2 linked regions of the Homo sapiens genome follow. The protein of the gene in region 1 purifies or fractionates together with the protein of each later gene. This does not show direct contact. Each region holds a gene or a part of one and is shown in the gene's direction. Other genes may lie near its edges.

The links.
Region 2: the proteins of APLF (region 1) and XPC purify together in Homo sapiens (affinity purification with mass spectrometry; 3 studies listed by BioGRID and IntAct, with this or other methods). This does not show direct contact.

Annotation. Positions count from the first base shown.
Region 1 is NC_000002.12:68,470,481-68,474,101, forward strand, and holds part of APLF (aprataxin and PNK-like factor), read left to right. Parts: intron 1-3,621. UniProt on the Homo sapiens protein: Histone chaperone involved in single-strand and double-strand DNA break repair.
Region 2 is NC_000003.12:14,158,061-14,161,681, reverse strand, and holds part of XPC (DNA repair protein complementing XP-C cells), read left to right. Parts: intron 1-1,851; coding exon 1,852-1,941; intron 1,942-2,789; coding exon 2,790-3,621. UniProt on the Homo sapiens protein: Involved in global genome nucleotide excision repair (GG-NER) by acting as damage sensing and DNA-binding factor component of the XPC complex. Has only a low DNA repair activity by itself which is stimulated by RAD23B and RAD23A.

The DNA of each region.
Region 1 (3,621 bases):
GGTACAAGAGATATTTCTATATTATATCTTTCAACTACATGTGAATCTACCATTATCTTAAGAAATTTAATTTAAAAGGGTTTTACAGTACGACATGTCAAGCACTGTTAGGCCAAAGTATTTGCTTTATGGGTTTTAATTAAAGCTGTTACACTCTTAAATGAAATCTACTATTTCTGATTTCAGATTTTTCTTATTTTGTTTTGACAGCAGGGATTATATGACACATTTCTTTATGATCTATTTTCCTCCTAGGAAACAAGATAGCAAAAGATATCTAGTGATACTTTCTCAATGTAGATGTAATTAAATTGACTGCTTTGATTAAAAGGAGAAGAGTCCTCAGTTGGGGGAACAGGGAAGGTCATAGGCTTCAGTATAGACTCTTCAGGTGGCATCAGTTCACCACTTCTAAGAATGTTGTAAATGTTCTACAAAGTTTACACAAAGTAACCATCCCCTGACCTGGCAGCTCTATACTTTTAACTGCTTGTTGCAGAATCCTGGCTGTCCTGGAATGCTGTTCCTACCTGCTCCAACATAGGTTTCTTCCCTTACGTTTCTTTTATTTCTAGATTTGCCCTTCCCTCATTTTATTATTTAGCCTACAACCAGTGCCTAGCACACAGTAGGCCTTTAACACGTGATTTCTTCCTTCCATTTCGGCATCTCAGCCTCTCATTCACTCTACCCTCAAAAAGAGCCTAATTGTGACTTAGATATGAAAAAGGGTTATCATTGAGTTTTGAAGTGAATTTAAATATAGTAAAGATGCAGTCCTACCAACTGCTAAATCTTGAGTAGCATTCATAATGAATTAAGTTTTAACATTTTTCCTGTTTTGTTGATTGATAATTCGCTAAATTCAGGAAATAGCTGATAAATATATACTATGGTTGGATGGGAGGGAGTATAGGAGAAATAAAGGTGAATGAGAAACAAGTCTTTGCTCTCAAGAAACTTATAGTTTTGTAGGGTTAAGAGACAAATAAACAAGTATTAGTAACTAAATAAGGCTACAACCTCACATGGGGACTGGCGCCAGGCTGACACTTGGAGTAAGCGAAGTGGGAGGGAAGAAGAAAAACAACACAGGGACAGTGATAAATGACAACAGTTCTGCCTCAGTGTTGGGAAGGCCACAAGGAGAGGGTCTCTATGCAATCCCTGCTACTTTCCCCTATTCCCAGTTGGTAACAGTGTCATATTGTTTTTTTAAGAATAGTAAGAAATTTGAATTTTTAGATATAATCACTGATTTTTAAAAGGTCACATTTTTATTAAAAGTTTTGGTTAAATACCATGAGTCTGTTGATGAAGAGTTAAATTCTATAAAATATTTCAAGAGATTTATTCTGAGCCAAATATGAGTGACCATGGCCCGTGACACAGCCCTCAGGAGGTCCTGAGAGCATGTTCCCAAGATGGTCAGGGTACAGCTTGGTTTTTATATATTTTAGGGAGGCATGAGACATCAATCAAATACATTTAAGAAATACATTGGTTTGGTTCAGAAAGGCAGGACAACCCAAAGCAGGGGCTTCCAGGCTATAGGTAAATTTAAACATTTTCTGGTTGACAATTAGTTGAGTTTATCTCAAGACCTAAGATCAAAGGAAATGTTCAGGTTAAGATAAAGGATTGTGGAGACGAAGTTTTATTTTGCAGAGCTCTCAGATAGCGGACTTCAGAGATAGCAGGTTGTAAAATGTTTCTTATGAGACCTGAAAGAGTGCCTGGCTCTTAATTGATTATCTCCTGGATCTGGAAAGGAAGGAAGGAAAACAAAGGGGAAAGGGAATTCTCTATAGAATGTGGGTTTTTCCCACAAGAGACTTTGCAGGACAGTTCCAAGGTATGGCAAAGAAATATATTTTAGGGTAAAACATTTTGATTTTCTTCCTTGTTATGCCTGAGTCAGACTGGAAAGTAAGTCACGTTATACAGGGTTAAATAAAACTCATCTGATGAGAATTTATGGTTTGTAGGGCATGACTCCCCAGACCCCTTAGAAAGGAATTTGGGCAAGATAAAAAAAAATAATAATCAGAGCTTAGTCCTCAAGCTAGACAGAATGATGTCACAGGGTACAGAGAGGTATAAGAAGGAACCTGAAGTTAAGAGGTGGGATCAGGGAAAGAAAGCTTCATGAACTTGGTAGCATGTTGAGTTTGACTGTGGTGTGTTGGGACAGTTAGAATTTTGGTAGGTGGAGTGGGTGGTGTAAGGAAGGGCTTGCGTGGTTTAAGGCTCTAAGATATGGTGTGTTGGATAATTGGGTAGGTGTTGACCAGGCTTGTGGGATGATCACATTATGTCAATGATCCCGTTTAACTTTTACAAACATTGTTTTTTAATATATTAGTTTTTAAAATAGACTTTATTTTATGGAGGAGTTTTAGGTTCACAGCAAAACTGAGTGGAAAGTACAGAGAGTTCCCATATACTCTCTGCCCTCTTACATGTACAGCTTCCCCGACTATCAACATTCTACACAGTATGGTATGTTTGTTGGAATTGATGAATCCACATTGACATGTCATTATCACCCAAAGTTCATGGTTTACACTGGGGTTAACTCTTGGTATTGTACATCTTATGGGTTTTGACAAATGTATAATGACATTTATCTACCATTGCAGTATAACACAGAGTTGTTCCACTGCCCTAAAATTTTCTGTGCTCTGCCTATTCATCCCCCAGAGGCTCCCCAGGACCCCTGGCAACTACTGAATTCTTTTACTTTCTCCATGGTTTTGCCTTTTTCAGAATGTCATAGAGTTGGAGTCATACAGTACATAACCTTTTCAGGTTTCACTTAGTAATATGTATTTAAGGTTCCTCCAAGTCTTTTCATGGCTTGATAGCTCATTTCTTTTTAGTGATGAATAATATTCCATTGTCGGTTTATCCATTCACCTACTAAAGGTCATCTTGGTTGCTTTCAAGTTTTAGTGATCATGGATAATACAACTACAAACATTTGGGTGCAGATTTTTGTGTGAACGTAGGTCTTCAACTCATTTAGGTAGATACTAAGGAGCACAGTTGCTGGATTGGATAGTAAAGTTGTATAGTAATAGTATGTTTAGTGTTGTAAGAAACCGCCAAACTGTCTTCCAGAGTGGCTGTACTATTTGCATTCCCACCAGCAATGAGTGACAGTTCTTGTCACTGGACATCCTTATCAACATTTGGTGTTATCAGTGTTTTAAATTTTGATCATTCTAATAGATGTGAGGTAAATCACTTTTCATATGTATATTTTGAGTGGACAAAAATACAGCAGTCAACACAGAAGACTCCTGTGATTGAATATGTGGTTATTTCTCCCTACCAACAAGCAAGCGGTCACTTTTACAGCAGACATCAACTGGGTGTCCTCTAATTCAATTTAATTCTGACACCATCTATCTGGAGATAGCATCAGCTCCCACATGTTGAGGGCTCAGTTCCCAAGATTTCCCCCCACTTCTGATGGCAATTGCAAGCCCCAAGTTGTTTTACCTGTGCTTCTGAACCACTGGATGTAAACCAGGGATCCCATGGCCCTTTCCTTGGGCTCTATTAATTTGCTAGAGCAGCTCCTAGAACTGGTTTGTTATAAGGGATATGACAAAG
Region 2 (3,621 bases), on another chromosome or scaffold:
TGACTCAGTTCCCTTCTATTCCTAGTGTTCTGAATTTTTTTTTTTTTTTTTTAATCATGAAAGCCTGTTGGATTGTCTCAGGTGCGTTTTTCTTTGTCAGTTGAAATGATCCTCTGGATTTTCTTTCCTTCATTCTATTAATGTATATTTAATTGATTGATTTTCTTATGTTGAACCATCCTTGCATTCCTAGGATAAGTACCACTTGGTCATGTTGTATAAGCCTTTTCATATGTTCAATTTGTTTTTTAGTATTTTATTCAGGATTTTTGCATCTATATTCATAAATTGGTTTATTTTCTTGTGATGTATTTGTCTGGCTTTGGTGTCAGGGTAATGCTTGCCTCATAGAACAAGTTAAAAAATATTTCCTCTTCTAACGTTTGAAAGAGTTGGAGAAAGATTGAGGTAAATTCCACTTTAAATATTTGCTAGAATTCACCAGTGAGGTCATCTAGTCCTAGACATTTTCTTTGTTGGGAGGTTTTTGAGTTCTGACTCGATCTGTTATTACAGATCTGTTCAGATTTTCCATTACTTCTTGAGTCAGGTTTGGTCATATATGTATGTTTCTGGGATTTTGTCCATTTTCTCTATGTTATCTAATTTGTAGGGATCGTACAGTTCTGTAACCTGATTTTTTTCCTCAGCAATGTACATTGATAGATTTCTTACTAAAGGTGGTGACTGTGTATGCTTGGGTAGCACTAGACTGTTTCCAGAGTCCTGTCACCTGCATTATCTTGTCTAATCCTCTTTAGAGTCCTGTGAGGAAGCCGAGGCAGGGATTATTCTAGATGCAGAAATCCAGGCTTAGGGAAGTCACTCAGCTAGTGGTGAACACTTAGTTATCCAGACTTCTGGACCTGTGCTCCTGTGCCATGCTGTACAAGAAGAAACTGAGAAATTAATACTGGTACAATGCCATCAGCTAAACTACAGACATTATTTGGATTTTCCACGTTTTCTCACTGATATCCTTTTTCTGTTCCATGATACCAGTTTGTATTTAGTCATCATGTCTCCTTAGTCTCCTCCAGTGTGTGACAGTGTTTTGGGCTTTCCCTGTCTTTCATGACCTTGACACTTTGGAAATTTTTAGCCGCAGAAGAAACAAGGCAAAAGCAATCATTTTTCTCACCATAACAATGGCTTCTCACACCGGACTTTCTCCCGAGGCTGTGGCAGTAATCAAGGAGAGATGCTGGGACCTGGAGACCCGTGTAGGAAGGCCTTGGCCGAGTACATTATCACTGTTGCCATTGGAGTTAAGTCCCCTGAGGGGCTCCCAGACTTCCAAGTTAACAGCTTTCAGAGCTGCAGACTCAGTTAAAGATTCAATGTGGGGAAAATTGGAAAACAGGGAACAGACCTGGTGATCTGACGATAATGATACTTTCTACTTCTTCTTCCCAAAGTGGTATTTCATTTTATTATTTTAGTCACAAACGCAACACATATTGACTACAGAACAATCAGAAGGTAGGTAAGCAGAGAAAAAAAGCATGTAAACACCCATAACCCAGTATATGGATGCTTTTTCAAATATACGTGTATGTCTAAATTTATATATACATATTTTTCTTATAAAAATGTAATCACATCATACTTTTTAAAGGAAAACTTCTATTTTCCTTTAATATATGATGAGCATGTTCCTGTTCTTCTACGAAGATAAACTTCTGCATCATCGTTTTTAACAGTGTCTGGAGTTTCCGTCGCCTACTGTTAGACAGTCTGGCTGTTTCCAGCTTTTCCCTGTCTTGAACAAGCACCATAACAAACAACATTGAACTCATTACATCTTTAATTACTTTCTTAGGATAACTATGTTCTTCCTTTTCATCATAGATATTCTTACTGATTCTCCGGGCTCTGCAGCTCTTGACCCGGCTGGTATTGTCTCTACAGCCAATTCCTCTGAAGTCAGCAACAGCAAAGGTGAGGTGCGCAGGGCTGCCAGAGAAGAGGAGCAATTGACAGGAAATTGTCACACTTAAAAAAATTGATCATTATTATATTTTTTAAGAGCTGGTATTCACGGAGTGTGGGTTCTTTCGAGCCTTGCACATACCCTGTGTTAGGGAAGACTTGGGCATGTGAGTGGGTATCTAGCAGCCTGAACTTCACGTGTGCAGAGTGGCCTGTGAGAGGCCTCGGCCCAGTGCTGCTTTTGTTCTGTTCTGTAAATTGTGTGGAATGGTGCCTGTCCTTGCTTGCTCCGTGGAGTGCTGATGAGTGAAGCACTGTGGATTTTGAGGTGGTCTGGGTTAGCTTCAAGAAGCTAAATGCTGTACTCATTGGGGTATTGGCATTGTCTGAAGCCTGATGGTCTAGAAGCTGATTTTCATAATATCTGTATTCTTAAAACTACAGCTGTATTAAGTCCATAAGTATTTGTTTGCAAAATGCGTATGTCCAAGGTGGGTAGTAGTACTGCTGAGGAAACTGAAACTCGGAGGTTAAGTAATTTACCTAATTTACGTAACCAATAAGAGTTAGAACTGGAATTCAGACCCATGTTTGGCTGTCCAAATCCCATGTTCTTTTCTCTTTACAGTTAGGGTGAAAAGAATTATACTGTGGCCTTATCTAAGATGCTACAGATTTTAGCCAATACATACATACAACCCTGAAGGATAGCTGGTTGATCACTGTCTGAGCTGGGGACATCTTGATGTATTGGTTCTCTAGCTGGTGACTTAACCCTATTAGATTACAGGATTTCTATCATATCATTAGCAAAAGAGGGGGGAGAAAAAAAAGCAAAATTTCTTATTCTGTTTAAGGGAAAGAAACCTTCCAAGGAAAGATTGACTGCGGATCCAGGAGGCTCCTCAGAAACTTCCAGCCAAGTTCTAGAAAACCACACCAAACCAAAGACCAGCAAAGGAACCAAACAAGAGGAAACCTTTGCTAAGGGCACCTGCAGGCCAAGTGCCAAAGGGAAGAGGAACAAGGGAGGCAGAAAGAAACGGAGCAAGCCCTCCTCCAGCGAGGAAGATGAGGGCCCAGGAGACAAGCAGGAGAAGGCAACCCAGCGACGTCCGCATGGCCGGGAGCGGCGGGTGGCCTCCAGGGTGTCTTATAAAGAGGAGAGTGGGAGTGATGAGGCTGGCAGCGGCTCTGATTTTGAGCTCTCCAGTGGAGAAGCCTCTGATCCCTCTGATGAGGATTCCGAACCTGGCCCTCCAAAGCAGAGGAAAGCCCCCGCTCCTCAGAGGACAAAGGCTGGGTCCAAGAGTGCCTCCAGGACCCATCGTGGGAGCCATCGTAAGGACCCAAGCTTGCCAGCGGCATCCTCAAGCTCTTCAAGCAGTAAAAGAGGCAAGAAAATGTGCAGCGATGGTGAGAAGGCAGAAAAAAGAAGCATAGCTGGTATAGACCAGTGGCTAGAGGTGTTCTGTGAGCAGGAGGAAAAGTGGGTATGTGTAGACTGTGTGCACGGTGTGGTGGGCCAGCCTCTGACCTGTTACAAGTACGCCACCAAGCCCATGACCTATGTGGTGGGCATTGACAGTGACGGCTGGGTCCGAGATGTCACACAGAGGTACGACCCAGTCTGGATGACAGTGACCCGCAAGTGCCGGGTTGATGCTGAGTGGTGGGCCGAGACCTTGA